Linked DNA regions of Homo sapiens. The protein of the gene in region 1 interacts with the protein of each later gene in a pairwise test. Each region holds a gene or a part of one and is shown on either strand. Other genes may lie near its edges.

Evidence for each region. Proteins that work in one complex are often made in the same cells at the same time.
Region 2: the proteins of ADAT3 (region 1) and THRB interact in a two-hybrid assay, tested with the Homo sapiens proteins (one large-scale study listed by BioGRID and IntAct).

The regions. Positions count from the first base shown.
Region 1 is NC_000019.10:1,907,641-1,911,996, forward strand, and holds part of ADAT3 (probable inactive tRNA-specific adenosine deaminase-like protein 3), read left to right. Parts: intron 1-4,249; 5' UTR 4,250-4,356.
Region 2 is NC_000003.12:24,141,487-24,145,463, reverse strand, and holds part of THRB (thyroid hormone receptor beta), read left to right. Parts: intron 1-1,757; coding exon 1,758-1,963; intron 1,964-3,977.

The DNA of each region.
Region 1 (4,356 bases):
ACCACGCAGGGTCTGACTCACCTGCCTGGAGCTATGCCGGTTCCCAGCCCAGGCTGGCGGCCGTGTTCTGCTGGGACCTGGGACCTGGGCTGCCTGCCCTCCTGAGGGGTCCCAGTGGTCGGTCGCCTGCCTTCTGGGTGGGTGTGGTAGAGGGAGGGTCAGGTGGCCCCCTGCTGTTGGGGGGCAGTCGCTGTGGGAGTGAGTCGTCCCCCCGGGCCATAGCAGGTAGGTAGGAGGTGCTCTGGCAGTTGAGGCCGCCCTGGCCTGGGACAGTCAATCAGCCTGAACACTGTGCCTGTTCCGGGATTTTGACCTGCCCTCCAAGGGCGCGGCGGGCCCAGCCTGCAGTGTCCCGGCAGCTGCCTCCTCTCTGGGTCGTTTGTTTTTCATCAGACAGAGGTTGTACTCTTGGAGGGACAAGCGAGGCTGTGTTTGTCTTTTACCCTGGAGACAGTGGAGTGTTTGTGGCCTAGCAGGGCCGTGCGGGCCTCTCGGTCCTGGTCGCGCGTGGTGTGCGTTTTGGGAGGGCCCAGCGAGTCGGCTGCTATGGGCCCCACCTGGCACGGGGCCTCGGGCAGCGGCAGCACCTGGCGCTGCCTCCGCGCTTCCTGCTCCCGGCTCCCACTGCATCTCCGGTTCTGTGCTTTGTTGAACGCGTGAGCTTCGGGCAGCGCTGGGGCCGCTTCAGCGTGACCTCCAAGGCCACTGGCCTGGAGTTCCACTGGCTGCTGGTCCCCCATCTGTGGGGCGCCCCGGCGGCTGAGGCGTGGACCAGGCAGTGCATGTCGAGGAGTAGCACCCACAGCTGCGCGGCTGCGAAATGATCCAGAGACACATCCCTGTCTGCGGGAGGAGCCGTCCATACCAGCGGGGATGTGTAGTCCAGGCTGGCAGTTCAGGATCACCCGGCTGGAGTCATTTTAAGATCATCTGCGGCTTAGCCCCAGCACCATCTGAGGCAGTACTGTCTGCTAGAAATAACTGTGAGCACACAGGTAGTAAGGTTTTTAGGATTTTATTATTATTTATTTATTTGAAAAAAGGAACAGGGTCTCTCTATCTTGCCCACGTTGGTCTCAAACTCCTGTGCTTAAGTGATCCTCTCGCCTTGGTCTCCTGAGTAGCTGGGACTACATGTGCACACCACCGTGCCCAACTAATTTATACTTTTAAGCAATGTGGGCTGGGCACGGTGGCTCACACCTGTAATCCCAGCACTTTGGGAGGCTGAGGCAGGTGGATCACCTGAGGTCAGGAGTTCCAAGACCAGCCTGGCCAACATGGTGGAACCCCGTCTCTACTGAAAATACAAAAATTAGCCGGGCGTGGTGGCATGTGCCTGTATTCCCAGCTACTAGGGGGGCTGAGGCAGGAGAATCGCTTGAACCTGGGAAGTGGAGGTTGCAGTGAGCTGAGATCATGCCACTGCACTCCAGCCTGGGCAACAGAGTGAGACTCTGTCTGAAAAAAAAAAAAATGTGGGCTGGGCATGGTGGCTTACGCCTGTAATCCAACCTCAGGCCTGCGGTGCGAGTCTGTGGGGGCAGATGCAGGTGGGGGAAGGCTGGCCAGCTGAGACTGTGGTTTGGGGGTGTTCAGGTGGGGTGGATGCCAGAGATGTGGGAGCCAGAGGCGCTGTCCCCCAGGGCCCTGTGAGCAGTCCCTGCAGGCTGGCTGTCCCCACGCCTGCCTCTCTGCTGTGCTGTCTGCCCGCCTAGGGCAGGCTCCCTTCTAATGGGCGGATCCCGAGAGCTGGGGGCCCCACCAGCCCTTCCTCTCCAGTGGAGTGGCCCTACTGCCTCATGTCCACCTGTGCCAGCAGCAGGGATGGTAATGGCTCTACTATCTCCTGTCCTCACCTGTGCCAGCAGCAGGGATGGTAACGGCTTTACTGCCTCCCGTCCTCACCTGTGCCAGTGGCTGGGATGTCTTCACCTGTGCCAGCAGCAGGGATGTCCTCACCTGTGCCAGCGGCAGGGATGGTAACAGTGCTGGTGATGTCAGGCCGGGAGGTTCTCACCCGAGAGCCGCCTTGGCACACTGCCCGGCAGTCAGGGATGTTAGCAGGAGCCCCGGGAGTGATCCCAGCTCTTCCCGCAGCCCCACTCCAGCCAGGGCCTCCTCTGTGACTGAGTAAGCAGGGACACCCCAGTGGCTGCCTGCTCCACCCGACAGCCAGGGCCCACCACAGCTGCAGGAATGTGGTCAAGGGATGGGAAGTCGGGCCCACCAGGGGAGGGGCTGCGCTCCGGGGCTTACGTTTCGTGGCTTGTCTTCTGAGGTCTCTCTTTTCCTAGCCCTTGGCCGACTAGGGGGCGAGTGTTTACAGAAACCACTGGAGGTGGGTGTTCCGTGTCAGTGCCAGGCTGTGTGCTGTTCTGGGAGGGGGCCCCGTGTCCCCCACACTTGGCATGCTTGCTTTCTGTCACTGCATAGCAGACTCCGTGCATCTGTGGGCTTAATACAACACCCGCCAGCTCCCGGTTCTGTGGGTCGGGGCCTGAATGTGACATGGCTGGCTCCTCTCTGCGGGGTCTCACCGGGCTGGAACCCAGGTGTCAGCCAGGGCTGTGTTGTCATCTGGAGGCTCAACGGGGGTGGCATCTGCTTGCAACTCACGCAGGCGTTGGCGGAATTCAGCAGCTTGCGGCCGGGGGACCAAGGGTCCTGCTCAGTTCCTGGCCACATGGCCCTTCTGTCTGGAAGCCAGGCGCCGCCTGTCCCCGCTTCTGCTTCCAGGCTCTGGCTTCTGGAGATGCAGAGATCACATCAGTGGTTGCCTGGGTTGCTGTGTGTGTTGTAGGGTGGTGAGACAAGTTTTCTCTTAGGGGTGATGGAATGTTCTGGAATTTTATAGTGGTGATGGTTGCACAACTCCAAGTGTCCTAAGAGCCACTGAATAGGACACTTGATAGTTTTTGGTTTTTGAGGTGTCTTTTTTTTTTTTTTTTTTTTGAGACAGAGTCTCGCTCTGTCACCAGGCTGGAGTGCAGTGGCACGATCTCGGCTCACTGCAACCTCTGCCTCCCAGGTTCAAGCAATTCTCTTGCCTCAGCTTCCTGAGTAGCTGGGATTACAGGTGCGTGGCACCATGCCCAGCTAATTTTTGTATTTTTAGTAGAGATGGGGTTTCACCATGTTGGTCAGGCTGGTCTCGATCTCGTGGCCTCATGATCTGCCCGCCTCAGCCTCCCAAAGTGCTGGGATTACAGGCTTAAGCCACCACGCCTGGCTTTTTTGTTGTTTTTTGACAGTCTCGCGCTGTTACCAGGCTGGAGTGCAGTGGCGCGATCTCGGCTCAATGTAACCTGCGCCTCCCAGGTTCAACCTTCTGGGTTCTCCTGCAAGCCTCAGCCTCCCTAGTAGCTGGGACTACAGGTGCGTGCCACCAGGCCTGGCCAATTCTTTGTATTTTTAGTAGAGACGGGGTTTCACCGTGTTAGCCAGGATGGTCTTGATCTCCTGACCTTGTGATCCGCCTGCCTCGGCCTCCCAAAGTGCTAGGATTACAGGCGTGAGCCACCGTGCCCGGGTTTTCATTTTTTTTTTGAGATGGCATCTTGCTCTGTCAGCCAGGCTGGGGTACAGTGGCACGATTGTAGCTCACTGCAGCCTTGAATTTCCGGCCTCAAGTGCTCCTCCTGTTTCAGCTTCTCGAGTAGCTGAAACCACCGGTGTGTGCCACCACGCCCAGCTAATTTTTTGATATTTAGTAGAAATGGGGTGTTGTTATGTTGCCTAGGCTGGTCTTAAACTCCTGGGCTCAAGTGATCCCCCCACCTCGGCCTCCCATAGTGCTGGGATTACAGGCGTGAGCCGCTGGTACCTAGCCATGAATTGTGCTTTTGAAAATGACCTGTCTTGGCTGGGCGCAGTGACTCACACCTGTAATCCCACCACCAGGTTGAAGCGGGTGGATCACGTGAGGTTAGGAGTTCGAGACCAGCCTGAACGACGTGGTGAAATCCCATCTCTACTAAAAATACACAAAAATTAGTCGGGCGTGGTGGCGCATGCCTGTAATCCCAGTTACTCTGGAGGCTGAGGCATGAGAATAGCTTGAACCCGGGAGGCGGAGGTTGCAGTGAGCTGAGATCATGCCACTGTACTCCAGCCTGGGCGACAGCGAGACTCCGTCTCAGAAGTAAAAAAATAAAATAAAAAAAAAAGAAAATGATCTGTCTTCTGGTAGGTGAATTATATCTTCGTTTTTAAAAACCAATGGCTGTTTAAACTCTGTGCACACCAGGGGTTAGCAGGACATGAGGGAGTGTAGCTCTGATGCGGTGACCTGGGCCGGAGCCCTCGGACTAGCCTCAGCTTTGGTGGCAGCACGCCCTGCCTTGTGGAGCCACG
Region 2 (3,977 bases), on another chromosome or scaffold:
GATTATCTATTTCAGTGTTCTATTGAGAAGTTTAAGATACTAGTGTCTATGAGGTTTAAAAACTCAGTGTTAATCTAGACTGTATGGAAATAAATTTTGAGTGCCCTTTACTTGCTTGTGAGGGATTCTAAGAGCTCAGGCTTTCTAATCAGAAAAACTTCTGTTCGAGTCCCAGATCTGTCACTTACTAGCTGTGTGACCTTTGGAATTAAGCTGAGATTTTCCTTCTGTGAAATCATTGCCTACCTTGTAGAGTTGTTTTCAAGATTAAATTAGATAATGTTCATCAAATACAACAGTCCCTGGCACACCGGAAGCATTTGGGAAGGGGTTGAGGGTATTATTACCATTCCTCCTTTCCCTTTAGTAACTGAACCAAAATGACTTAACAGGGCTCATTCATATTTTCCTCATTTGTAAGCGCTCACATGACTTTGACAATCCAATCAAATCTAAATGGTCTGGAATTTAATATTCTCTTTAAATTAGAATATTTAAATGGGAGACTAGCTAGGCACCTTGGTTCTCCTTCTCTTGCTATGTCTGCTTTTTTTCTTTTCCTACCAGGTCACACCTTCATCAAGAAATGGCCCTAGGACAGTGATGTCGTAGAACTGGAGTCAGGAGTCCTGGGTCTTGCCTTGGCTCTGCCATTAACTTGCTCTGTGACTTTAGGCAAGTCACGACCTCTCTGGATCAATTTCTTCTTCTTTCTGTGAAAAGACAGAGTAGGACTAGATGACGTCTAAGTTCCCTTCCAGTTCTAAAATACTATGACTCTGCAATGTAAAACCTGAGCCTTTCCATTCCATTGATAGTTACCAAGTCTAGTGAAACGGTTTTGGTTTTGGAAATTGACCACAGAAATATAGGTTTCTTGTTACCTGCCCTTCTGATTTTCCTTTCACCCAAATGATAGAAGTCAGGACTGCATTTACTGAGCACTTATAATGCATTATCACATTGAATACTCTGTGAAGTGGGTATTATTGAGCCCATTTTGTATAGGAAGAAATGAAAGCTCAGAGAACCTAAGGAACTTGCCAGAGGTCACACAGCTAGAATGTAATAATATCAGAATTCAAACCCAAGTCTTTCTAGATTCCAAAGCCTGGACTCTTTAACCACCCTTGAGGGTGGACCAGGTAGAGAATAATGTACAGTGAGTACCTTGAGGCCCAGGTGAGGCCCAGCCACATTCCAATTAGCCCTTAAGGGAGCCATGAAGAGTTGGGGTCCTTTTTCCTCTTAAAAAAAGGGATCACGAGCCTCCCACTTACTGCTCCATAACGTTTCTTTTTTTAATTCCATAACGTTTCTTTAACCTGAAGTTCTCTTTACTAAGAGCCGTTTTAGGGGAAGCGGGGAGGACAGAAACCCAGAGAGTGAATTCGGATGACTGGCTGGACAGATTTCTCTGTGATCTTGTGGGTAGTATGGATTTTACCTCTCTGCTTCACTCTGTTTTAGAACCACCTTCTGTGGAGTTGGAGTGCGCAGTGTCTAGGTTCTCTGGGGACTTTGTTTTGAAAAGCTGGCCGGTCATGGGGAGTTTGGCTCTAGAGACCATGTTGGACAAGACTAGTCAATGGCAGTTTGCTGGTGAGGAGAGAAACTGTCCCAGTGTGACCCACCCCGAAGGACCCAGTAAGCCATCTGTGCATCAGTGGTCCCACTCCTGAGGCTCCAGGAAGTGCAGCTTGCTGTGTATCTTGGGAGCATCTGTGTGCCTTGTCTCATCTTTCTCCCCCTCCCAGTGGTGCTGGATGACAGCAAGAGGCTGGCCAAGAGGAAGCTGATAGAGGAGAACCGGGAGAAAAGACGGCGGGAAGAGCTGCAGAAGTCCATCGGGCACAAGCCAGAGCCCACAGACGAGGAATGGGAGCTCATCAAAACTGTCACCGAAGCCCATGTGGCGACCAACGCCCAAGGCAGCCACTGGAAGCAAAAACGGAAATTCCTGGTAAGGCTTCCTTGCACAGATCAGTTTCACTTATATGCCAGTGTTTTCTACCTCAATTTATTCAGTCCTCATCACCTTGGGATACTGGTGTTATTGCCTCATTTTACTGATAGGGAAACCGTAGCTCTGAGAGGCTGAGTAACTTGCAAAGCTAGGATTTGAGTCTAGGTCTGTGTGAGAATAAAGGCCACTCCTACCATCTACTTTGTGATTTGCTGAATTCTAAAACAGTTTCTTAGGCCACATTATATCAGTTTGCTTTTACTGTTAGAAAGACCACTCCCAGACCAACTAATTAGTAAAATGTTTTGTCTGCCATCTTTTACTTTCTATACCCATTTCTTTCCTTAGATGCCCAGTATATACATATTTAGTCCCTGAACTCAATCCCAAATATTCCCTTTATAATAGCCTCTAGGCCTCAAGTATATTTTTATGTCAACAGAAGTCAAAATTTTTTAGCTTAAATTAAATGAGCTTGACTCAAGAAGGGCAATGGGAATGAGGGAGTAGGGATAGGGTTGGTGGGCACGAGTGTGTAGAGAAAAAAGACCTTCCAGACCCTTGCAATATTGATGTTTAATATTCTTATAAAAATTACCAGTTGTGAAAATTCTTCCCATTCATTTTTTATTCAGACTTCATAGTGTTTTGAGGTAAGCTGGAATTACTATCCCCATTTTACAGACATGCAAACCAAGCCCAAGGCCTTAAGCCGCTTGCCCAGGATCGCACTGCTAAAAGCCAGGCACCAAAACCAACTCGGTCTTCTGGTTCCAAGTCCAGGCTCTCCACCCACCTCATTAGAAAGACTACGTGCCCTACTAGTGCTGGACCATCTCAGAGACTGACTCTGCTCTTAGTTTATGATATAAAACCCTTTTCAAGTACCTACCTGACAACAGATATTCTGTGGTTTCATTTGTATCCCTAGGACACATTAGAGTACTTCCCCATCTGAACAAGAAGATATAGTGGTATAATTATCCTTGTACCTCAACATTAACATTACAATGAGATAGTGGATCTTTTTCTTAAAACAACATAACAACAACCTTAAAGGAAGTTTTGGAAAGAAAAGGCTTATACATAATTCACCTGTACTGACACAATTACTTTCGTTGTAATGAAACAATAGTGCCAGCACTTTGTTGATGGCTTTCACTAACAGCAATGTCAGCAAATACCTAGATGGCCTTTACCATATGCCAGGTACTATTCTAAGTGCTTTTCATTCATTAACTTCCTATACCAATCCTGTAGGTAGATGTGGTTAATATCTCCATTTTACAGAAGAGAGAAGTAAGACACAGAAGTTGAGGAAACTTGCCTGAGCTCCCACAACTGGTAAACAGTGGTGATGGATGCAGCCAGCTCCGGGATTTATGTCTCTATCCACTACCCTATGCAATCTTGGCACCTGCACAAACCCAAAAAGCCTCTGAAAGATCCCAGCTCTTTGGAGGAGCAGCCTCTCAGTGCCTTGATCTTGCATCTTCACCCCACCCTGGTATATCTGCCAGAAAATTCAAAAGCACTAATTCTGGATTGATAGACAAATTCTAACACAGTACACTTGGGGCATAGCAAGACAGAGTCCTACCTAATTGCAAACTTAAATCCATCCTTTCCCCAAATGTGTCACCCATAAATGGACATTGTAGAAACCACTTCCAGGCCTGGCACTGTCTCCTGATTTCAAGTCGTGACCAAGCTGAATTCCAAGTAAGGTAGAAGATTTGAAGTTCATCCTGGACTTCTCCCGGGAATTTTATACTTTTATTGTCTTTACTCCCCATAGAGAAGGGATACTAGTCCAACTAAACTTGTTTAAGTAGTCATAAGGTGCTTCTTTCCAGACTTTAAAGATTTGTTCCTTTATTTAAGAAACATTTATTGAGTGGATACTATGTGCCAGAAAGTAAATAAGTCAGGCACATTCCTCTAGTGGGAGGCAGATAATAAGAGATAAACAAACAAAATAAATGCAGGTAGTGGTAAGTGCAATGAAGGC